Regions from separate parts of the Homo sapiens genome. Here all the other regions are linked to region 1. The links come from fine-mapping of genetic effects on gene expression. A gene starts in region 1. Each other region holds a variant in brackets. All regions are shown on one strand. Distances are from middle to middle.

The links. PIP is the estimated chance that this variant, and not a neighbour inherited with it, causes the effect.
Region 2: its variant is fine-mapped to the expression of FCER1A in whole blood (INTERVAL, PIP 0.99).
Region 3: its variant is fine-mapped to the expression of FCER1A in whole blood (TOPMed, PIP above 0.99). The same link has a PIP of 0.9 or more in blood mononuclear cells.
Region 4: its variant is fine-mapped to the expression of FCER1A in whole blood (TOPMed, PIP 0.92).
Region 5: its variant is fine-mapped to the expression of FCER1A in whole blood (TOPMed, PIP above 0.99).

The regions. Positions count from the first base shown.
Region 1 is chr1:159,300,189-159,305,279 of GRCh38, reverse strand. FCER1A (Fc epsilon receptor Ia) reads right to left here and starts at 2,944. Exons shown (of 5, transcript NM_001387280.1): 1 at 2,861-2,944; 2 at 2,406-2,426; 3 at 1,098-1,352. The coding sequence starts at 2,915.
Region 2 is chr1:159,400,236-159,405,345 of GRCh38, reverse strand. It overlaps a transcript of OR10J1 not described here. Among named protein-coding and RNA genes, the nearest start is that of OR10J1, 37 kb to the left of the region's middle. The variant T/A (reference allele first, on the strand shown) is at 2,853.
Region 3 is chr1:159,448,350-159,453,459 of GRCh38, reverse strand. No RefSeq gene overlaps it. Among named protein-coding and RNA genes, the nearest start is that of OR10J1, 11 kb to the right of the region's middle. The variant G/T (reference allele first, on the strand shown) is at 3,100.
Region 4 is chr1:159,438,414-159,443,523 of GRCh38, reverse strand. It overlaps OR10J1 (olfactory receptor family 10 subfamily J member 1), which reads right to left and starts at 3,802. Exons shown (of 1, transcript NM_012351.3): 1 at 2,557-3,802. The coding sequence starts at 3,732. The coding sequence ends at 2,803. The variant G/A (reference allele first, on the strand shown) is at 2,039.
Region 5 is chr1:159,468,859-159,473,968 of GRCh38, reverse strand. All of the region lies in intron 2 of LINC02819 (long intergenic non-protein coding RNA 2819), which reads right to left. Among named protein-coding and RNA genes, the nearest start is that of LINC02819, 5.3 kb to the right of the region's middle. The variant G/A (reference allele first, on the strand shown) is at 2,835.

The DNA of each region.
Region 1 (5,091 bases):
ATTTTGAAAGGAAATATCGCTAGCATAATAAGCATAATTAATTTAGGACCAATCCTTTAGGACTTCTCTAGAACCTACTCCAGGGAATAAAGAAGCTATTCTACATTGCTTTAGTTTGTGTTTGGAATTTACATATGGAGGTTGAAACATTTTTTTTCACTCAAGAGAAAAATATAGAGTATAAAAGAGACCTATTGGTCACTATTCAAAATCATTAATTTGTTTATTCAACATTTGCTAATTAAGCCACATGTGCCTAAGCATGCTATGCTATTTGTTGGCAGTAGGAGTGATAAAAATGAAACAAGCATGAAATATGTGTTCTTAAGTAACAACAGAGGACATAAGGAAATGTACCCAGATATGTTTCATAACGAAGAGTACAACCTAATATTCAGGTCCTGCCATATGGATTATGCAGAGCAAAACTTTAAGTCAAACCTTTTGATCCTATTCCAGATACACAGCTCTTTGAAATGTTCACATATATGTCATGCTGTTTGACCACATAATATATACCTGAATCTAGGCAGAAAAGATAGAGGAAAATAGGGTGGAGGAATAATATTGAGAGATGACTAGAATATTGAAAGAAGGCATACAAGTAATCAAAAGGGAAGGGGGTAGAAGAAAAGAGATGCAGGGGTCTTTTTTATTTATTTATTTATTTTTTGAGACGGAGTCTTGCTCTGTAGCCCAGGCTGGAGGGCAGTGGCGTGATCTCAGCTCACTGCAACCTCCACCTCCTGGGTTCACACCATTCTCCTGCCTCAGCCTCCCGAGTACCTGGGACTACAGGTGCCCACCACTACGCCCGGCTAATTTTATATATATATATTTTTTAGCAGAGATGGGGTTTCACCATGTTAGCCGGATGGTCTCGATCTCCTGACCTCGTGATCCACCTGCCTCAGCCTCCCAAAGTGCTGGGATTACAGGCGTGAGCCACTGTGCCCAGCCAATGCAGGGGTCTTAAAAATGAGAGGCCTTGAATCCCACTCTGGTGTCCTAACCCTTGGAATAACCTGTTTTTTCCCATCTTCAGATGAGCCATCCCTCACATGAGAGATCTGTATTTCCATATCCCTGGAACTTACCACTGAAGACTTCCAGGTACACAGGTTCACTCTCATTAACTTGTTGGTGCTGACATTTGTATTCTCCACTGTCTTCAAATTTGGCATTCACAATATTCAAACTTGAATTTGTCTCTTCTGAAAGGCTGCCATTGTGGAACCATTTGGTGGAACTGACTTCAAAGAAATTGTTCCCATTACATGTAAGAGTCACATTCTCTCCTTTAAATATTCTATTCCATGGAGGGTTCAAGGAGACCTTAGGTTTCTGAGGGACTTCAAGAAGATAAAAATATGAAAAGACATGTAGAGAGAAAAAAAGTCATTGAAAACTGTCTAGGCTTAAAAGTACAAACGAAGCAATATTCTGACAATCAGTGGTCAACCTGTCCTTATTCTGTTGGTGATAAGACCCTGTTTTGATTTCTAGGGGAAGGAGAAATTAGTATTGGTGCCCCAGGGAACGCCCAACACAGGGAGAAAGACAGGACACATATGCAGGAGATTTAAAAACAAAGAAACCAATTCACTATGTGATTTGAGCTGACTCACTCTACTTCTGTTAATTTCAATTCAGTATCTGTAAATGAGGACTGCAATCTCTTTTGAGGTAGAAACACTGTCTGCCATGTTCAACCATTGTTACATTAAATATTTATTATGTGAATGAATGAGTGAATTATGGATGGATAAATTTACTGGACTGGATGAAATATAAGGTTTCTCCAAGCTCTGAATATTTATGACTATTTAATTGTAAGTATATACAGAGTGAAAAACATATGTCAGTTCCAGAAAGTAGTGAGAGGCACTAAGAAAGTCAGTCTTGAATGGCTTCCTGGAACAAGGGGATGTAGTGCAAATTTGAACAGAGACCAAAGAAGTAGATACATGGTGATAACAAAAGGGTGATATAGTCAGAAGAGAACTGGACTTAGATCCAAGGAACTTACGTTGAAATCCAGTTCCTTAGCCATGTAACCACCAGAAAATCACTGAGTTTCAGCATCCTCAATTATAAAATGGCAATAATAATAATAATGTAATTATTGAGCGAGATCATGCCAAAGTGTCTAGGAGAGAGAATGAGACATGTATATGTGCAACAGACATGGTTATTGACTAAAACAGAGGAGAGAATGACTTGAGAGAATGCAATGAATCAGGGAAAAAAAGAAAGACAAGGCAAGGTGGAGAGGGAAAGTAGTCTGGCCAAGGAACAGATTCATGCTCATTAGAAAGCAGAAGTGATGGGACGAAGAAAATAGTGAGAGGAAAGCAATGCCCAGACATGTTGAAACACCAAGGGAACAAGAACAGAGGACTCACCTGCTAACACGCCATCTGGAGCTGCAAAAGTCCAGAGAGGATACATTAGTGTCCAGCAGTCTTCTTTATCTCCAGAGGACTAGAATCTGGGTGTGGGGATAAGATCTACATCCATGGAATTTTAAGGACCAACCGTCTTTTCAGGAATCAGAATCAGGGGAAGAAAGAGCTTCTTTCTCTCCTCTACCCTCATTTCCTTGGTAGGAAATTTGCACTCTGGAAGATGCCAGAGCAAATGCAAGGAACCAAGCTTTCAGTCTGGCTTCCTCCTTAGGTGTTGCTCAGCCCACTTGCCTCTGCTTTCTAGCTTGGCTCCACTACAGAGTCCCTGGGAAATGCCCAATAGTTTGCACATGTCCTAGAAAAAGTCACCACCCACAGTAAAGGTTCCTACCCCAGCTGCTCCCCAAATTCATTTGGGCCTCCCTGGGAGGGGTAATTGAATCTCTACTTACCGAAGAACAGTAAGGCTACACACAGTAGAGTAGGGGATTCCATGGCAGGAGCCATCTTCTTCATGGACTCCTGGTGCTTACTGTGCTGGAGAGATCTAAGGCTTCAAATATAGGCTTAAAACCAAAAAGCAGAAGGAAATGTTTTCTGTATCATATCTGGTTAACCCATCAGCTGTGCCTGGTTTTGCTTCTTTCTTTAGAGATAATATTCAGGATGGTGCCCAACTGGGCAATTTAATATTTACCCACTTACTCCACTCCCTATCCCACCTCCACATATACACCTGGAATCTGGTGAGAGAGAGGCATAGGTCTAGCACAATCACAAGCCTTTCTTAATCTGTCAATCTGTGTACAACTATTTAGTTTACAACTTAGAAAAGTGGGATGCAAGGGAGAGCAGAATAAAACAGCAGCAACTAATTACTGAATACCAAACATATGCCAGGTGTTATCCTAAATAAATCTGATATTTCATTTATTTTTCACAATAATCCTATAAAGTACATACTATCACTATCTACATTTTATAAACAGGAAAACTGAATCTTAGTGAGGTTAAGTAACTTGTTTTGGGGTGCCAACTATTAAATAACTAATTTGGGGTTCAAACACATAAAATCTAACCCCTAAGTCAAACTCTTAGTCATATGATGTACTGTTTATACATATTCAGGAGCATGGCTAGCAACTGCCAAATTCTTTTGGGATTCACCAGAGCTACCAACGCTTTTCTTGTTTAATTTCCTGCTGATCAGTTAGTGCATAAATCCACAAATTTTCATCTGATTCACTGATGATCCGCTGTCTGACCAGCGAAATTGGAAACATTTTCAGAGACTCCTCTTTCTCTACTGTGCCCTAATCTGGCTCAGAACACAGGAAGGCAGAAGTTAAACCATTACTTATGGGGATCTAGGCCATATAATTTATTTTATTTTACTTCCTAGCTTTTGTTTACTTTTAATATTATAATTTCCCAACATGATCTCCCTTTCTCCTTTAAATACACAGCAGGGGCTTTCTCCAGGATTCCTTTACTAATTCTTCTGTTTTTTTGCTCTAGGTCAAGGCTCAACCTTCTTCCAGGATCTGATATTAATGATAATACTGGAAATGAAAACTCTATTAATGTCTATAGTGGCTTGTCATTTGCAAAGATTGCTTTTAAATGAGTGTCCTATTTTATCTTTACCAAAACTCTGAAGAAGACAGGGACAGTATATTTAAACCCACTTCACATCTGAAGCACTTGAGGAACCATTCTATCATACCTTGCTCTTCCCCACAGACTGCTGAATTAAGTCTATTGAATGAAACCAGTCATTCCACATGAAGATCTAACCAAAACCTTTAGTTTTCTATGGAATTAGAAAATATAGGGCTAAAAAGGTTAATAAATAGGAATTTAAGTTTCAGATAAGAAAGATTAGGTACTGAGCCCAGGACATGCTATGTTTTAATGACAGACCTTAAAGGTAACAGCAAGTTATTTTGAAAAGTACAAGTTGTTTGTGTTTTAAGCTCTGAATTCAAATGTTCCTAATTTTTATGTGATTGAAGGTTACCTGTATAATAGGGACAATAATGGTATCCAGGTCATGGTTATATTATGAGATTTAATAAGATAAAAAAGAAGTAAAATGCATTGCACAGCATCTGACATGTGAAATATGGTCAATAAATACATTTTTTGTCTTCTTTATTATCATTATTTATTAAAGACTTATAGGAGAAATATGAATTTTGACTGGATTAAAGTTATTGTCAACCTACATAGTATGTTTAATTTGATAAACAACATCTTATGCTAGTTTAATATATCTACGCAATCTCAATCCTCTCCACAGTCACAAAGAAGAGAGCATAATCAGGAAAGAACAGAATGCAGAAAGTTGTTGGATAGGATTGGAGAAGAGAAGGAGGAGGAAATAGGGAAGATGTAGTTTTTAAGGTGCTGTCAGAGGGCAATATTTGAAGCCCTAAGCCCTGGAAGAGACGGGGAAAGATTCTACTTTACCAGTTTGTTGAGACTTTGCCAGGGGAAATTTGGGTTCCTTTTTCCTAGGACAGTGAACCTACAATCAAATTGTCCCTCAGAGAGAGTCATTTTACCATGACTCAAATAGTCTATTTAAAGGCTTCCTCTGAAGTCGTTATCTAAATAGCTCCTACTTAGATGGGAGATGGAGCAGGGCTCATCGAGAGGTACTATTCCTAGTTCGAAGAGT
Region 2 (5,110 bases), 100 kb before region 1:
AGCCTCCTATGGGGCCTGCTCCTGGAATGTCATCACAGGTCCTGCCGAATAACACAAAAATGGAAGATTCATGTTGGATGCCTTGTAAAAAGCTTCAGATGTGTTATTCTATTTTGAGGCTAGGGAACCTTCAGAGGTGAAAATGGAAAGTGTTAATTTAGTTGTTCCTTATACAATTTCCCCCTTAGATCCACCTTTTTTCCTCATGTCTTTATTTGTTCACAAACTTTGGTATAAGTTTACTGGTTCCTCTTTCACTGGTGTAGGCATCACCCTCACCCTATGGAGCCCATGGTGAGCCATGAGTATATGCAGTTTCTCCTCGATAGTGCTACCTCATGTCTTGCACCACCATTATCATGGGGTATAAAAACGGGGAATTACCGTTTATCACACTGAAAACAAAGTTCTATATGTTTGTACATCGCTTTATAGTTTATAAGGAAGTTTCACATATAGGATTTCACCTGATCCTTAATGAACCCTATAGAGTAGGCTGGGAAACAATTATGTTATCATCCCTATCTTAGACCTGAAAATACTAAAGCACATATAGATAGAATTTATCTGCCCAGGCACACGAAACTAGACAGTTGTAGTGATAGGATTTGGATCTAGTTCTCTTATCATTGTCACTTGCTCTTTGTAATGAATGGAGTAACATGAAGCCGACACCTCTTGAGAAAAATCATGGTCTTCATTGGATAGTACAGGCAAGGCTGTCACTGTTCTATGAAGCGTGTCTACCCATTTTAGGGGAAAAAAGCATCTTCTCTAGACATTTCTGTTGAAAACTGCCATAATAATTTTACTGCCCTCTCGTAATAAATTATCACAAACCTATGATGTTTGAGCTGTAAATGATACTCCTGTATCATTTACAAATGTGGCACTGTCGCGCACTGCACAACCTGCAGAATCCTATGCTGCAATTCTGATGATGGGTGTGAAAAAGGATACTGGAAACAATAGGTGCCTAGTTCCTTTCCCGGAGTCTATATTCATTCCTGGATTGTCTAAAAGGTGGAAGACATTAAATTCTATTGCTGGCTGAAACACCTCCAGTTTCTCCAACTCAGGCCTTTTCAAGAGACTGTTCAAGTTATTTCAAAAGGTACAGTTATTTTTGACTATAGTCATCCTGTTGTGCTATCAAATAGTAGGCCTTATTTATTTTTTCTATATTTTTTGATACCCATTTACAATCCCCACCTCCCCCTCAAGCCGCCAGCTATACTTTTCAGCCTCTGGTTGCTCTCTATGCCCATGAGTTCAATTGTTTTGATTTTTAGATCCCACAAGTAAGTGAGAACATGCAATGTTTGTCTTCCTGTGCCTGGCTTATTTCATTTAATGTAATGATCTCCAGTTCCATTCATGTTGTTGCAAACGACTGGATTGCATTCTTTTTTTATGGCTGAACATTACTACATTGTGTATATGTACCACATTTTCTTTATCCATTCATCTATCGATGGACACTTAGGTTGCTTCCAAATCTTAGCTATTGCAAACAGTGCTGCCACAAACATAGGAGTACAATCTCTTCAGTATACTGATTTCCTTTCTTTTGTGTATATATCCAGCAGTTGGATTGCTGGATCATATGGTAGATTAATTATTAGTTTTTTGAGGAACCTCCAAAAAGTTCTCCATAATGGTTGTGCTAATTTACATTCACACCAGCTGTGTGCAAGTGTTCCCTTTTCTCCACATCCATGCCAGCATTTGCTATTGTCTTGTCTTTTGGATATAAACCATTTAACTGGGGTGAGATGATATCTCACTGTAGTTTTGATTTGCATTTCTCTGATGATCAATGACGTTGAGCACATTTTCATATGCCTGCATGCTATTTGTATGTCTTCTTTTGAGAAATGTCTATTCAAATCTTTTGCCTATTTTTGATCAGATTATTAGATTGTTTTCATATAGAGTTGTTTGTGCTCCTTACACATTTGGTTTATTAATCCCTTGTCACGTGGATCGTTTGAGAATATTGTCTTCCATTCTGTGGGTTGTCTCTTCACTTTGTCGAATGTATACTTTACTATGAAGAAGCTTTTTAACTTGATGTGATCCCATTTGTCCACTTTTGATTTGGTTGCCTGTGTTTGTGGGTTATTGCTCAAGAAATTTTTGCCCAGGTTAATAATGTCCTAGAGATTTTCCCCAATGTTTTCTTGTAGCAGTTTCATGGTTTGAGGCCCTAGATTTAAGTCTTTAATCCATTTTGATTTGATTTTTGTGCATGGTGAGAGATAGGGGTCTAGTTTAATCCTTGTGCATATGTATACCCAGTTTTCCCAGCACCATTTATTGAAGAGAGTCTTTTCCCCTAGTTTGTGTTCTAGGTACCTTTGTTTAAAATGAGTTCATTGTAGGTGTGTGGATTTGTTTGTGGGTTCTCTATTCTGTTCAATTCGTCTATGTGTTTGTTTTTATGACACTAGTATGCTGTTTTGGTTACTGTAGCTCTGTGGTATAATTTGAAGTCAGGTAATGTGATTCTTCCAGTTTTGTTCTTTTTGCTTAGGCTAGCTTTGGCTATTCTGAGTCTTTTGTGATTCCATATAAATTTTATGATTGGTTTTTCTATTTCTGTGGAGAATATCATTGGTATTTTTATAGGGATTGCATTGAATCTGTAGACAGCTTTGGGTACTATAAATAGTTTAACAATATTGATTCTTCCACCCATAAACATGGAATCTTTTTCCTTTTTTTGGTGTCCTCTTCAATTACTTTCATGAGTGTTTTATAGTTTTCATTATAGAGATCTTTCACTTCTTTGGTTAAGTTCATTCCTAGATAATTCATTTTATGTGTGGCTATTGTAAATGGGATTTTTT[T/A]TAAAAAATTTGTTTTTCACATCTTTGACTGTTGGCATATAGAAATGCTACTGATTTTTGTGTGTTCATTTTTTATCCTGCAAGTTTACTGAATTTGTTTATTAGTTCTAATAGTTGTCTTGTGAAGTCTTTAGGTTTCCCCAAATATAAGATCATAGCATCTGCAAAGAGGGATACTTTGGCTTTTTCCTTTCCAATTTGGATGCCCTTTATTTCTTTCTCTTGTCTGATTGCTCTAGCTAGGACTTCTAGTACTATACTGAATAACAGTGATGAAAGTGGGCATTCTTGTTGTGTTGCAGATCTTACAGGAAAGGCTTTCAGTTTTTCCCCATTCAGCTAGTATCATTCAGTATGGTACTAGCTGTAGGTCTGTCATATATGGCTTGTATTTCATTTTGGTATGGTCCTTCTATCCCCTGATTTTTAGGGGTTTTATCATGAAGGGATGTTGGATTTTATCAAATGCTTTTTTAAGCATCAGTTAAAATGATCATATGGTTTTGTCCTATATTCTTTTGATGTAATGTATCACATTGATTGATTTGCAAATGTTGAACCATTCCTGCATCCCAGGATTAAATCCCACTTGGTCATGATAAATGATCTTTCCAATGTATTGTTGGATTCTGTTTGCTAGTATTTTGTTGAGGATTTATGCATCAATATTCATAAAAAATATTGGCTTGTAGTTTTCTTTTTTTGATGTGTCTTTGTCTGGTTTTGGTATCAGGATAATGCTGGCCTTGTAGAATGAGTTTGACGTATTCCTTCCTCTTCTATGTTTTGGAATAATTTGAGTATGATTGGTATTAGTTTTTTAAATGTTTGGTAGAATTCAGCAGTGAAGCCATCAGGTCCTGGGTTTTCTTTCCTGGAAACTTTTTGTTATGGCTTCAATCTCATTACTTGTTATTTATCTGCTCAGGTTTTTTATTTCTTCTTGGTTCAATCTTGGTAGGTTGTATCTACCTAAGTATTTGTTCATTTCTTCTAGGTTTTCCAATTTATTGGCATATACTTGCTCATAGTAGCCACTAATCATCCTTTGAATTTCTGCAGTATCAGTTGCAATGCCACCTTCTTCATTTCTGATTTTATTTATTTAGAGCTTCTCTATTTTTTTCTTTGTTAGTCTGGCTAACGGTTTGTCAATTTTGTTTAACTTTTCAAAAACCCAACTTTTATTACATTGATCTTTTGTGTTTTGCAAATTTTAATCTTATTTATTTCTGCTCTAATCTTTATTATTTATCTTCTACTACTTTGGGGTTTGGTTTGCTCTTGCTATTCTAGTTCTATAAGATGCATTGTTAGATTGTTTTTTGAAGTTTTTTCTCTTTTTTTTTTGGTGCAGGCACTTATAGCTGAAAAATTCCCTCTTAGTACTGCTTTTGCTATATCCCATAGGTTTTGGTATGTTGTGGTTCCATTATTCTTTGTTTCAAGAAGTTTTCAATATTTCATTGACCCACTGGTCATTCAGGAACATATTGTTTAACTTTTATGTATTTGTATATTTTCCAAAATTTCTGATTATTCATTTCTAGTTTCATCCCCTTTTGGCCAGAGAAGATGCTTGATATTATTTAAATTTTTTGAATGTTTTAAGACTTGTTTTGTCACCTAATATATAGTCTATCCTTCAGAATGATCCATGTGCTGAGGAAAAGGATGTGTATTCTGCAGCTCTTGTATGAAATGTTCTGTAAATATCTATTAGGTCTATTTGGTCTATAGTGCAGAATAAGTCTGAGGTTTCTTTATGGATTTTCTGTCTGGAAGATCTGTCCAATGCTGCAAGTGGGGTACTGAAGTCTCCAGCTCTTATTGTATTGGGGCCTATGTTTTTCTTTAGCTCTAATAGTATTTTCTTTATATATCTTTTATATATTGGGTACTTTATATTTAAATTTTATGTAATAAATATATATTTAAATTTTATAAAATATTTATATTGAAAATTGTTATATCCCCTTGCTGAAGTGACCACTTTATCATTATATAGTGACACTCTTTGTCTTTTCTTATAGTTTTCATCTTGAAATTTATTTTGTCTTATATAACTATAGTGACTCCTGCTCTTTTTAGTTTTCCATTGGGATGGAATATCTTTTTTCATCCCTTTATTTTCATTCTATGTGTGTCTATAGGTGAAGTGTTTTTTGTAGGCAAAGATCAATGGATCTTGTTTTTTCATCCGTTCAGTCAGTCAATGTATTTTCACTGGAGAGTTTAGTCCATTCGCATTCAATGTT
Region 3 (5,110 bases), 150 kb before region 1:
GCTCTACCCAGTTCGAGCTTCCTGGCTGCTTTGTTTACCTAAGCAAGCCTGGACAATGGTGGGCGCCCCTCCCCCAGCCTCGCTGCCGCCTTGCAGTTTGATCTCAGACTGCTGTGCTAGCAATCAGCGAGACTCCATGGGCGTAGGACCCTCCGAGCCAGGTGCGGGATATAATCTCGTGGTGTGCAGTTTTTTAAGCCGGTCCGAAAAGCACAATATTCGGGTGGGAGTGACCCGATTTTCCAGGTGCGTCCGTCACCCCTTTCTTTGACTCGGAAAGGGAGCTCCCTGACCCCTTGCGCTTCCCAAGTGAGGCAATGCCTCGCCCTGCTTCGGCTCGCGCACGGTGCGCGCACTCACTGACCCACGCCCACTGTCTGGCACTCCCTAGTGAGATGAACCCAGTACCTCAGATGGAAATGCAGAAATCACCCGTCTTCTGCGTCGCTCACGCTGGGAGCTGTAGACCAGAGCTGTTCCTATTCAGCCATCTTGGCTCCTCCTCCAAAAGATGCTATCTTAACAATATTGACTATTTCAATCCAAGAACATGAAATATCTCAATTTATTTAGATAATCTTTGATTTTTCTATTCAGTGTTATGTAGTTTTCTATATCAAAATTCTACACTCTTGTTTAGATTTATGTTTATTTTATTATTTGTGGTATTTACTTCTAATTTCATTTTTTCATTACTGGTGCATAGAAAAACAATTGACTTTTGTATAGTGACCTTGTATTCTATTACATTACCATACTCATTAGTCCTGGAAGCTTTGTTTGTAGGTTCTTTGGGGTTTATTCAATAATGGCAATTGTTAATAAAGACAACACTAATTCTTTCTTCCAATCTATATACCTTTTATTTCTTTTTCTTGTCTTATTGCAGAAACCAGGACTTCTGGTAAGATGTTGAATAGAAGTGCTGAGAGGAAACATCCTTGTCTTGCTCTTGATCTTAGGGGGAAAGAATTCAGTTTCTCACCTTAAGTATAACGTTAGTTGTGGGTTTAAAAAATATTCTTTATCAAGTTGATAAAGTTCTTCTTTATTCCTAATTTGCTGAGAATTTTACTTTTTCTAAATCAGAAGTCAGCATTGGCTTTTGTCAGATGATTTTCCTGCACCAACTGACATAAACATATGATTTTTCTTCTTTATCATGTTGATTTGGTGGATTACATTGATTGGCTTTTGAATCTTGAACTAGCCTTGAAAACATGAAATAAACGACATTTAGTCATGGTGTATACTTTATCTTATATATTGTTGTATTTGATTTACTCATATTTTGTCAAAATTTTTACCTTAACATTCATTAGATATATTGTCTATGTTTTTAAAAAATATGTCTGTTTGATTTTGGTATGAAGGTAATAGTGACTTCATGGAATTACTCAAAAAACATTTTCTCTGCCTCCACTTTCTAGAAGAGACTGTGGAAAATTGGCATTATTTATTACTTAATTATTTGGTAGAATTCACCAGTAAAACCATCTGGGCCTGTTACTTTAATTTTTTGAAAGGCTAATTATTATTAAATTATTTTTTTAATACATATAAGGCTATTCAGTTTCTTTATTTCTCCTTGTGTGAGTTGTGGTACATTGTATCTTTCAAGGAATTGACCTATTTCATTTAAGTTGTTATCAAATTTCTGGGCATAGAGTTTTTCCTATTTCCTTATAATCTTCTTAATATCAGTGGGTCAGTAGTTATGGCCCCTTTTTCATTTAGGGTATTGCTAATTTGTGTGTTCTTTTATTTTTCTTCTTTCTCTTTCAAGAGGTTTATAAATTTTACTGATCTTTCCAAAGAATCAGCTTTAAACTTTGCTGATAGTCAATATCAAATGTTTTTCTACTTTCAATTTTATTGATTTCTGCTGATATTTATTTTTCTTCTGCTTGCTTTGTTTTTCTTTCCCTAGTTTCTTATGACAAGGCTTATGTTATTGATGCCAAATATTTCTTCTTTTCTATTGTATGCATTTAATGATTTAAATTTGCCTTCAAATATTACTATGTCTGCATGTCAAAAATGATAAGTTGTATTTCCATTTTCTTTCAGCTCAAAATATATTTTAAAAATTTCTCTTCAGACTTCTTCTTTGACCAATGTGTTATATAGAAATTTTCACATATGCTGGGATTTTCCAGCTATCCTCTGTTCTTGATTTCTGGTTTTAACTTCACTGTGATCTGATAACATACGTTGTATAATTTCTATTTTTAAAAATTGGTAAATGTGTGGTTTATGCTCCAGAATGTCTATCTTGGTGAATGTTTCATGTGAGCTTGAGAAGAATGTATATTCCATTGTCATTGGGTGGAGTATTCTATAAATATCAATTAGAGAAAGTGGTTGATAGTTCTGTTTAGTTCCTCTATATTCTTTCTGATATTCTGTGTTCTTAAACAATTACTGATGAAAGGGCATTTAAGTATTCACCTATAATAGATTTGGTGCTTTACCTTTTCAGTTCTAAAAGTTTTTGACTCATGTATTTTGATGTCTTTTTGCTCCAAACATACACATTTATATATTTTTTATCTTGTAGAATCAATATTTTTATCGTTATGTTATACCCTTTTTTATACTTCATAATCTTCCCAGTTCAGAATTTAGCTTTGTCTGAAATTAATATAATTGCTGCAACTTTCTTTGGATTAGTGTTAGCATGGTATATCTTTCTCCATTTCTTTATTTTTAAGCTGTGTACATGGGTTTTTATTCAGATAGAAACTATAAACAACCTATAAATGAATCCTGTGTGCCTCAACAGTCTTTTAATTAAATGTATTTGGACCATTCATATTTAAACAACCTTTAAATGAGTCTTGTTTTTTATAACCTTGACAGTCTGTCTTTTAATTGAAGCAACTGTTTTCTATTTATTGCATTTGTTCTTTGTTTGCTTTCTTCTTTTTTGTATTCTGTGGCTTATAACTCCATATTGTCTCTTAGCATACCAGTTTTTGTTCTTTTTTTTTTTTTTCCAGTGTTTGTGTCCCTGGGTACTTGAGATTAGGGAGTGGTGATGACTCTTAAGGAGCATGCTGCCTTCAAGCATCTGTTTAACAAAGCACATCTTGCACC[G/T]CCCTAAATCCATTTAACCCTGAGTGGACACAGCACATGTTTCAGAGAGCACCGGGTTGGGGGTAAGGTCATAGATCAACAGCATCCCAAGGCAGAAGAATTCTTCTTAGTACAGAACAAAATGGAGTCTCCTATGTCTACTTCTTTCTACACAGACACAGCAACAATCTGACTTCTCTATCTTTTCCCCACATTTCCCCCTTTTCTATTAGACAAAACCACCATCGTCATCATGGCTCGTTCTCAATGAGCTGTTGGGTACACCTCCCAGATGGGGTGGCAGCCGGGCAGAGGGGCTCCTCACTTCCCACAAGGGGCGGCTGGGCAGAGGCGCCCCCCACCTCCCGGACAGGGCAGTGGCTGGGCGGGGGCTGCCCCCCACCTCCCGGACGGGGCGGCTGCTGGGCGGAGACGCTCCTCACTTCCCAGACGGGGTGGCTGCCGGGCAGAGGGGCTCCTCACTTCTCAGACGGGGCGGCTGGGCAGAGACGCTCCTCACCTCCCAGACGGGGTCGTGGCTGGGCAGAGGCACTCCTCACATCCCAGACAGGGCGGCGGGGCAGAGGCGCTCCCCACATCTCAGACAATGGGTGGCCAGGCAGAGATGCTCCTCACTTCCTAGATGGGATGGCAGCCGGGAAGAGGCACTCTTCACTTCCCAGACTGGGCACCGGGCAGAGGGGCTCCTCACATCCCAGACGATGGGTGGCCAGGCAGAGACGCTCCTCACTTCCCAGACGGGGTGGCGGCCGGGCAGAGGCTGCAATCTCAGCACTTTGGGAGGCCAAGGCAGGCGGCTGGGAGGTGGAGGTTGTAGCGAGCCGAGATCACGCCACTGCACTCCAGCCTGGGCAACATTGAGCACTGAGTGAAGGAGACTCCGTCTGCAGTCTGCAATCCCGGCACCTCGGGAGGCCGAGGCTGGCAGATCACTCACGGTTAGGAGCTGGAGACCAGCCCAGCCAACACAGCAAAACCCCATCTCCACCAAAAAAAATACGAAAACCAGTCAGGCGTGGCGGCGCGCACCTGCAATCGCAGGCACTCGGCAGGCTGAGGCAGGAGAATCAGGCAGGGAGGTTGCAGTGAGCGGAGATGGCAGAAGTACAGTCCAGCTTCGGCTCGGCATCAGAGGGAGACCATGGAAAGAGAGGGAGAGGGAGACAGTGGGCAGAGGGAGACTGTGGGTAGAGGGAGAGGGAGAGGGAGCCAGTTTTCATTCTTTAAAAATTATAATAGTTATCCTGGAGTATACAATATACATTTTAAGCTAATCTAAGTTCACTTTCAAAAAACACTCTGCCTTCACATGTAGTGTAGATATCTTATAATAGTGATTATTCCCAATTCTTCCCAGCTACTTTTTGTTTATTTTATTTATTTATTTATTCCACTAACCAAGTACATTGCTACTATTATTGCTTTAAAGAAGCACACACACCCCTTAACCTAAAATAAAAGTTTTAAAAAAAACTAGTATTTTTAGTTCAGCTAAGAATAATCTACTTTCTTCCTTTTTTATGTTGATTCAAGTTTCTGACCTATATAATTTTTTCTTCATAAATATGTTATTTTAGCATTTCTTGAATGGCAAGTCTTTTGGCATTAAGTTCATTTAGTTTTGCTTGTCTGATAAAGTCTTTGTTTCTCTTTTATTTTTGAAGAATAGTTTTGCTCTCCATTCTAGGTGGCTGTGTTTTTTATTTTAACACTTTAAACATTTTACTCCACCTTCTTGTTTGCAGGGGTTTCTGATAAGGAGTCTGCATTAATTCTTATTCTCACTCCTCTGTAGTTAAGATAATTATTTCCCTCTGGCTTATTTAAAGATTTTCTCTGTCCTTGATTTTCTGAGCCTGGAATATAATATGACTCATTTGCTTAAGTGGAGTTTTTGTTTGTTTGTTTGCTTATTTTTTCATAGGAGCATTTGGTTTACCTTGCTTGGTGTTCTCTAAGATTTCTGGATCTGTGGTGTCATGCCTGTCATTAATTTTGGAAGGTTCTTAGT
Region 4 (5,110 bases), 140 kb before region 1:
GGACCTAGTGAGATAATGGTTGGGAAATTGTCTTGTGGCAAGGGGCTACAGTGTGAAAGCAGTGATACAGAGCATGAATGATGACTAAAATAATTCCAAAAAAAGGGATTGTTGAAAACATTTGATTCCATAATGTCTGACTGTTAAGCTATTCTGTTCAAACAAGATTTCTGAAAAACCTGAGTGATAAATGTTCTAAAATTCCATGGTGATGAAATGTTCTGAGTGATGCCCAGCAGGAGCTACATAGCCTTTGGCCCCAGGAGATAGCACTACACACAGATCAAGGCAACCTTACTGTCCAGGTAACAGGCATTTATTTCACTGAACTTCAACGTGCAAAGTCCATTCTTAGCTTGATGAGATTTAGCTTTATATAGATCAGGAAAAAATATCCCGAGGCTTACATTTTTGTCATTAAATATTAAGCATACTTTGTTCATTTCTCCATCACATTGAATTACGGTGAGTTCTGCATAAACCCATCTCCCTTTCAAGACTGGAAACTATTTAAGGGATAGTACAGGGCTTATTTCAAGATTTTTTTATGTCTAGCATAGTATCTGGCACATAGTAAATACTTTATGAATGTTTATTGAATAACTGGTAAACATTTCATGAATGTTTACTGAATGCCTGTCAAAATCTTTACCAGCAATGTTTTGCTTTTTTCAGTTTTTTTTCTTGTCAGTTAACAACTTGTCTTAGTTACTTTTAGCCACCTTATGATGTTCTTAGAGAACTTTAGATATGGTTTTATTTTTGCCATTGACCTTGTTAATCCTGAAAAATGCCCTAGTAGTTCTATTATGGTCTGGAATGCAGATACATGTGTCCTTTGGATCTCGGCTGTTTTGTTTGTTTGTTCGTTCAAAGGCTTTTCTGATTAAAGAGTCCACACTTTCAGCCTAGTAGAAAGTGTGCCCTGAGACCATACTGCCACCAGGTCTGAGGCCCAGCCTAGTCACTGATTTGACAGCAAATCCTTATTCTTCCCTTGGTGCTCATCTGTATCTCAAACCCCAAATCTACATGACAGTCCTGGGACAGCCTCCACTCCATGTTCTCTATGACAGTCTGATTCAGCTTCATCTTAAGTACATAATTATTTCTGTGTATTCTCCCCAATACCTTAGTCACATTTTCTTTTTACTCATGAGCTTTTTGGCTTGCAGTCCAAAGTCTCCCTCCCCCTATATGGCTTTTTAGATATCTCAGGGGAGCTAAGTATGATAAAGATGTTAAGAATTCATATAGATGCTTCACAAACTGAATCCTAGTTCTCCTAAGTCCTGGGTAGTTCCCATATTTAAAAGTAAAAACTGTCCGGGTGCAGTGGTTCACGCCTGTAATCCCAGCACTTTGGGAGGCCAAGGTTGGTGGATCACCTGAGGTCAGGAGTTTGAGATCAGCCTGGGCAACATGGAGAAACCCTGTCTCTACTAAAAATACAAAAATTAGCCGGATGTGGTGACGCATGCCTGTAATCCCAGCTACTCAGGAGGCTGAGACAGGAGAATCACTTGAACCCAGGAGGCGGAGGTTGCAGAGAGCTGAGATTGTGCCACTGCACTCCGGCCTGGGCAACAGAGCAAGACTCTGTTTTTTTTAAAAAAAAGTTAAAGCTGAAATTCCTTAATTTGGCATATGAGGCCTTCAGAATATGACCCCAACCTACCCTTCTGGTTTTATCTCCTTCAATCCCCACCTCTTCCATGTCCTGGAGTCAGCACAACTGAATCATTTTTCGTTACCTGATCAGTCCTTTTGCTTTCATACCTGTAGCTACATTGTTTCTTCTCTTTGGAATTCTTTCTTATCATTCAGACAATCTCTTGTGTTTTAAAAACAGTTTGCATCACAGGTCCCCTCCTCTTAAGACTTCCCTAACATCTCCAACAGTCTCTCTCTCTTCCCCTTTCCTTTTCTTTCTTTTTCTGAGTTCTTCTTTAATTGTGTGTAAACACCACTTACCATAAAGAACTGAAACCATACTGTCAAATGCTTGTTTTTACCACTAGGCTTGTAGCTTCCTGAA[G/A]CCAGACAAGAAAGCTTTTTTAATCTTTATTTCTCCAGGACCTAGCACAGAGGCTAGTTCATAGCTCTTGCCCATTATGTGTTTTCTGATTTAGCCAAATTTGAAAGGATCCAGGAGTATCTCAGATTATGCCCTCAAAACACTGTCATGATGACTGTAGAATTGCCAGCATCTCTAATTAAACTGTGTATGCTCACCATCTTTAATAAGCAGTTTTGCTAGAATCTGGGATAAATTAACACATCCAGGAGAGAACATCTATTTCTCCTGGGCTATCTAATCCTGAGGCCACTTTCCCTCCCCACACAGTAACTTATTACTTGACATGTCATAAACATACTCCAATAGGGAATCCAGTTTCAGAAGCCCTGGTGCTCTAGTATAGGAAGAAAGGGATTATAGGAAAAAGATTTTAAGTGTGTCTTGGATTCTATTTTCTCAAGGGGCTTTCTATTGCCTTCATTAGGTGGAGATTCACAAAGAAACCAAAAGGTCAGTAAAAAATTCTCAGCCCATACTACTTTCTGGCCTTTTATTTAGGCATATCTTATCCTTGTTTGTCTATTTATCCCCAAAAATAGGGATAACACTCCATCCAGTAACTTTATTTAAAGCTTCAGACTCCCAGTTGTATGAAACTGCTATTCCTCTTTTGCCTCTTATTTAAGGGGCAGGTCTCTAGGAGCCAAGTGTTTGTGAGTTTACACCTCATATTCCTGCCTAGTGTGGATGTTGACAGCCTCAGGAGAACTCTTCCTACATGGTCAGGAAAACTTCCCACCAACAGCCCTGCACAGAGCATCTTTGACCTCTTTATTTCTCAGGGTGTATACCACAGGGTTCAGTAGGGGAGTGATGACAGTGTAGGTCACCGAGATCAGCTGGTCATGTTCTCTGGTGTTCTCTGACTTGGGCTTGAGGTAGGCAATGGAGGCACAGCTGTAGTGGACAATGACCACAGTGAGGTGGGATGCACAGGTGGCAAAAGCCTTCTTCCGGCCCTCAACTGAAGCAATCTTGAGGATTGTAGAGATAATGAGAACATAAGAAATGAAAACCAGACCCATAGGTACAACAAGCACCAGCACACTGATAATCAAAGTCAGGATTTCATTGACAGTGGTGTCAATGCAGGAGAGCTTCATCACAGGGCGGATGTCACAGAAGAAGTGGGGCACCTTTCTAGCACAGAAGGGTAACCTGAATACAGATGTCACTTGCGTTATTGCTACAATCAGCCCAATGCTGCAGGCCCCCAGGACAAGTTGGATACGCAGCCTCTTGTTCATAATAACCATGTATCTCAGGGGGTTGCAGATGGCCACATAGCGGTCATATCCCATTGCTGTGAGCAGGAAGCAGTTAGTGATGCCAAAGGTTACAAAAAAGAACATCTGTGTGGCACACCCTGCCAATGATATGGGCTGGCTCATACCTACGAGGCTGGAGAGCATTCTTGGGAGAATGACCAATGTATATACAGTCTCTGAAGTGGACAGCATGCTCAGGAAGAAGTACATGGGTGTGTGAAGATGAAGATCCATTCGGATGATGGTCACAATGATGATATTGCCTGCTAAGGTTAAGATGTATAGTGCAAGGAACACGCCAAAAAGGGTGATCTGCTGCTCATGGAAGCTAGAGAAACCTTGGAAAACAAAGTCAGTGATGAGAGTAAAGTTCTCTCTTTTCATGGATTGGTTCCCAAATCTGAAACATAAAAGCATAAAAGTCACATAGTCCCAGTAAAGCAGTAGAAGCACATTTCTGAAATTGATTGAAGTTCAATAGTTCTCAGTTACAAATCTGGTGATGTATTTCCTAGTGGATTAAGTTAATCCCTGGGTTTACTTATCTTTACTTAAAATATTTTTACTCTGTGACCATCTGTTATAATTTTCCATGCATCATAGAATCATATAGTCTCACTTTTTCACTGTATAACCATACATGCTCCTACTTCATATCTACTCTTCCTCCCTGACATCTGGAATGGCTTCTCTTTTCTCCTCTTATTTCTTTCCTACTCTTCAGAGATGAGTGCACATTTTCAGGCCTTCATAAAACCGTATTACACTCAGAGGTTCTCATGTTTATTTGGATTATTTTTACCCCATTATTGCTGCCTCACCTCATACAAACACTTAGCAACTTTATAATACCTTTTACATCTTTTCATATTTCACTAGCTCCAAATTATGCATGGATTGGGTGCTTGAAAATAATTTGTTTAGGGATGGACTAGTGATGTCTTTTCTTTCAAGACTATGAATCATCCTCCTTGCGCATCCTTTAAGAATTAGAAGCAAAGTAGAAAGGTTCATCTTGTCTTCAAGAAGAAAAAGGAAAATCTTAGCCAACCACCAGCCTCTCCCCACTTCTGTCTGAGTGATGGAAGTCTGCTGACAGTTCAGAGCACTGATTCACGTATGTTATAAACTATGCTACATCTTTACCTTCCCTAAACTAGAAGGCAAATTTATAGCCAATACAACTTTGTGAGTAAGCCTACACCCACTCTGCAGAGATAAACAATTGTATCAGGAAAGATACAGCAAATTTAAGTGTCCCTCACCTAAAGCAAAAGCAAACCCTGAATATAAAAAAACAGCTACACCAAAGATACATCATTTTGTTGAAGGAAGGGGATCAGTTCAATTTATGTAATATTTCACATTTTTATCTCTTTAAACAGTAAGCTTCTCTAGGGTATTTAAATTATATTCTGATTTGCTTATGCATATTCAGAAAGAGAAGTTTTGCATAAAGTAAATCACATCAATGATGAAGGTTAGTACGCACGGAGACTTTCTTCAAGTTCATAAAAATCTATTTAAAAGAAGTTGATGACCAGCTGTTAATCATTTACACTAAGAATGCTAAAAAGAAAGTAAAGCTGCAATAGAGAATATTTTCCAATAAAGAAAATCATTTGATACTAAAATATATGTCTAAAGACATTTGTCTTCTGTGAGGCTTCTGAGCAAAAACTATGTAGTAGTCCAGCCACGGAGTGGTATGGTGCCTCTATGGTGAAATCAGAAATGCTTGGCAGAGCTTTTAACTGTTACA
Region 5 (5,110 bases), 170 kb before region 1:
AGAAACATTAAAATTACATATGTAATTTAATTATATTTCTTTTGGACATTAATGCCAGAACTAGTCCCTGAACTCTACCTTCTAAGTTTGCGTCTCCCTCTTGTGAGGGTCTTTCTGTCGCATTTAGAGTTCTCCTGCTTCTCTGGTTTTAATTATCCATATTACAGTTTACATGAGGTATTTTTAAAAAATTCATTAAAAACATTATGAGAAACCACAAAGAAATATGACTACATCTGACTCTGATATTGGCTCTCCCACCCTGTCCCCTAAGTTATGAAACTCTGGAACATTCTGTTTTCTCCCTGTACTAATCTGAACACAGAACTTGGCACCTCTTCAAGTCTGCAAAATAATCTCCAAAAGCCTGGGTAAGCAATGATAATGGCATTCTTGAAGAGCTGTAAAAGAAAATAGATGAAGGACTTTACATTGCACCCTTAAAGCAAATCTAACACCCCCTCCAATTAGTCATTTCTAATGTTTTCCTAAATCCCTTCTCTGTTACTCAATGAATAGGTCTTCTGGCTCCCTCCTACTATTTCCTCCCTCTCTCCACTATCTTCCTGCCTCACTGGCCTCTTCCTCCGCCTCTAAGATTCACTCCTGTTAAAATTCCTCATCCCTTTAGTAAGCGGAACAATTTAATTGCTGTATTGTGTTCCTTCGGCATTTCCTTAGGGTCTCATACTCCAAAAAAAGTAATTTCTTTTGAATAAATACAAAGTCTCCCTAAGAGGAATTTTGGGAAATATGATTTTCTTCATTTCATTACACAGAATAAATTGGATAAGTTTAGAAAGTAAAGATTTCAATGCTAAGAAATTTGGTAAATATAATAAGGAGCTTTACCAAGTCTCAAACCTCCTTAGTGTAAGACAATCATTCCTCATCACATTTGGGTTGATATAGTCTACCTGCAGCTTGCACATTCCGTTCTAATAACAAGGCAGGTTCCATCTTGTTTTACACTACAAGAGCAGTTCATCAGTCTGAAGACAAGGCCAACACATAGTTTTCTCATTTATGTCCCTTCCTACCCCCATGTGTCCTTAATAATCTCCCTATGATAACAAGTTTCTTAATTTAAGGTCAAAAATAGGTCATAGTTCATTTGTGTAGCTGTGTTAATTAACCCTCCAAATTCCAAGACAAGAGCTCATCCTTGTTGGCTCACTTTATCAACTCTTCCACATTCTTCCAGTTCTTTGAAATTTATCTCTAGTATGTCTCATTTCCTAAGATGATGATTTTATCAGAACATAACCAATGTAATATTCAGTATCATACTACCATATTGAGAGTTGAGAACACTAGAATCCCAATAATAATAAAACTAGGTTTCATTTATCAGCTAGCTACAGCTCTAAGTTGCTTTATATGCAATTAGCGCATTGTAATTATCATAACTACAGAAGAGGCAGGCATTATTATGTCTATATTGTACCTAGGAAACTACGGCTTAACAAGATTAAGGTATTTCCCCCCAAAAAAAACGACATTCTATTTCCCATCAATGTGATGTTTCATTCAGGGTCCATACTCCATATACTTCCCCACTGCTCTGAAGTCCATAAAGTTCATTATAAAAGCATAGGGTTTTGGAATTGAAGGGACTTAGAGATTATCTAATCCTATATACTCACTTTACAATTACTACAGATGTCCCAACTAATTAGAGCCATTCTTACCCCAAGACTTGGTTGATAGAATATTATACATTTAGGGACATCCAGGAGGTAATGATAGTAACTTGGCTTGCAAAAAGGTTTAAAATATCTTTTTTCTTAATGACCCTAAATGAAGGCAAATGGCTTTCCAAGAACAGCTCTTTCAAGTAGGGAGCAACATATCAGCTGACTTGTTACCAGCTTTTTATTTGCATGATCAGTGTATTACCATCAACTTTTAGTAGCAGATAAAGGTATTTAAGGAATCAGCCTCAAGATGAGTAAACTTTATCGGAAAAGGCTGTCACAAGCTTGGGTAGCTGTCTTATGGGCTTATTTCTTAGTCCTTTTGGGCTGTTGTAACAAAATACCTTAGACTGGGTAATTTATAAAACAGCAGAAATTTATTGCTTATAGCTCTGGAGGCTGAGAAGTCTAAGATCAAAGTGCTAGCAGATTTGGTTCTGATGAGGGTCTGTTTCACATAGATGGCACTTGCTGTGTCCTCAGTTGGCAGAAGGGGCAAGGAAGCTTGCTTAAGCCTCCTTTATAAGGGTACAAATTACATTTATGAGGGTGCAGCACTCATGACTTAATCACTTCTTGAAGGCCCCTTCGTATCATATTGGGTATTAGCTTCTGACATACGAATTTTTGGGACCACAACATTCAGACCATAGCAGCTTTGATACTGTTTGGGTATATCATGATTAATCAGCCGGAGGGTAGTGATTGCATCAGTGGAAACAGGGAATGCTATGAAGACAAAAGTCAAGTTATTGAGCTCAAAAGATACACTGCTTACTTTGAAGTGTTTTCCAGGACTAACCCAGAACGAACTCCTCCCCATGCGGAAACCTTCCAAATGCTTTTGCCTGGTTGTTATAAATTGATCTCATATGGCACTGCCCATTAAGTTGGAGAGCACGCTACAAATATGTATTCTACAAATGTGTACTCTGTGTTTCGTAGACTTTACGGTTTTCTAGAGGATGGTATGATGCCTATCTCTGCTGAATATCAAAAAGATCTTCAGAACGGAACAAAAATTGCTTAATTATACATTGTTCTTTCCTATGGCCAGACATTCTTTTGTTGTTAGAGAGAGTCATTATGTAATAAAAAATCTTGAATTTTGGAGTAATAAAAACAAAGTGTTCCATC[G/A]TATATTCATTTACTAAAAATATTTATCAAGAGATGACTCTATGTTAGTAACTGGCAAATGTTATAAATAAGACTTGTAAGGCTACTACTCTCATAGAACACAGATTCTAGAGAGAGGAGTTAGATAATTAATACATCAATAAATGAGTAAAATAAATCTTATAAGGACAATAGGATGATAAGATTTGTGGCAAGGAGGTATTTTAGACTGGGTAGTCAGAGAAGGCCTCTCTTTGGAAGCAGCAACTGAGAAGGAAACATCATATAAGTGAACAGATAGAGGCCGATAGGTCATAATTTAGGGCAGCTATAGGTAATACATAAAGGAATGGGTGTGGGTGTGTACTAATAAGTCTTGCTTTTTTTTTTTTTTTTTTTTTTTTTTTTTTGAGACAGAGTCTCACTCTGTTGCCCAGGCTGGAGTGCAGTGGCACAATCTTGGCTCACTGCAACCTCCGCATTCCAGGTTCAAGTGATTCTCCTGCCTCAGCCTCCCAAGTAGCTCGGATTACAGGTGTGCGCCCTCACACCAGGCTAATTTTTGTATTTTTAGTAGAGATGGGGTTTCACCATGTTAGTCAGGCTGGTCTCGAACTCCTGACCTCGTGATCTGCCTGCCTCAGCCTCCCAAAGTGCTGGAATTGAGCTATCTCTCCCGTGTAAGTCTTTATTTAGAAAAACAGGCAGGGGTGCGGGAGTCAGATCTGGCCTGCAGAGGAAAGCATTTCAGGCAGGAGGAATCTGGGAAGTTGAAAGGCCAAGGCTGGGTGTGGGCTTTGTATTCTTGTATTCTTAGAAAGTAGTATGGCTGGAGGCTAGTGAGAGTGAGAGTGATAGGGTGTTGGAGACAGAGGTACAGGCCAGGTCAGGTAGGGCTTTTTAGACTTATGAAGAAATTTACATTTTATTCTAAATGCAAAAGGAAGCCACCAGAATGATTCACGCAGGGAACAGTGACACAATCTGATTTATATTTTAAAGAGGCTCTGGTTGCTGAGCAGTTACTATTTTTAGGGAAGCTAAAGTGGAAGCAAGGAGAGTCAGGAAGCTGTTACAGTAATCCTAGGAAAATACCATAGTGAAGACAGGGAGAGCTGGAAGTGTAGCAGTTTGAATTTCTCTCTTCATGGCTCCTTAACTATACATGAACTTTGAACTTCATTTCCTTCATCAGCTAAGTATAGATAAAATTCCTATTCTCTTTGTTAGGATAAAATAAGCCTATAAGGCAAATGTCCAACAAATGGTTAGATGTCGGTTATGTTAGTTCTTTCTTTTTCTTCTTTGTCTAAAGCTCATACATTTTTTTTCTTCCTTCTCCCCTTTCTTTCTTTTTCTCCTTTCCATGGATATTTGTCTCCTTCCATAGATATTTAATGGTGAACTGGTTTGTGCAAAACACAATACTTGGTAGTGGAAGATATAGAGAGATCTTGTTTTTAAACATTTATTGACTTATATAGTTGGGTGCTCAAAAAAGCAGAACCTTTAGTTTTCCCTTTAGTTTTTCTTTTCTTTACTTTTTTAGTAAGGCAAACTGCCATTTTAAAGTCCTAGCTAGTTATATAAATAATAATGAAGAAAAAATCATTTTGGAGAAGATCTTAGTTTTGGGCAGAATCAACTAAGGGTGATATACAAAAAACTCCTTACATTAAAACAAAAATTAATTTAACATTGGTTCTGAGAATATACTGGAAGTTTTATCCTGGGAAACATATGTACAATTTTTTTTTTTTTTTCGTGACAAATATGCCCCAACCCACAACCCTTGTATATATGCAGCACAAGATTACTGGGGACGATGAGGTTATTAAAATAGCCACTGTAATTAAAGTGGTCTTGATATGGTTTGGGTGTGTCCCCACCCAAAATTTCATCTTGAATTGTAATCCCCATAATCACCATAATCCCCAAATGTCAAGGAAGAGACAAGGGGGAGGCAACTGAATCATGGAGGCGGCTTCCTCCAAGCTGTTCTCATGATAGTGAGTCAGTTTTCACGAGATGTGATGGTTTTATAAGTGTTTGATAGTTCCACCTGTGTTCATTCTCCTTCCTGACACCCTGTGAAGAAGGTGCCTTGCTTCCCCTTTGCCTTCCACCACAATGCTAAGTTTCTTGAGGCCTCCCGAGACATGCTGAACTGTGAGTCAGTCAACTAAGCCTCTTTCCTTTATAAATTACCCAGTTTCAGGCAATTCTTTATAGCAATGTGAAAATGGACTAATATACAACTGAAGTCATTTGGTAAAATAAGCTTCAAGATTCCTCTT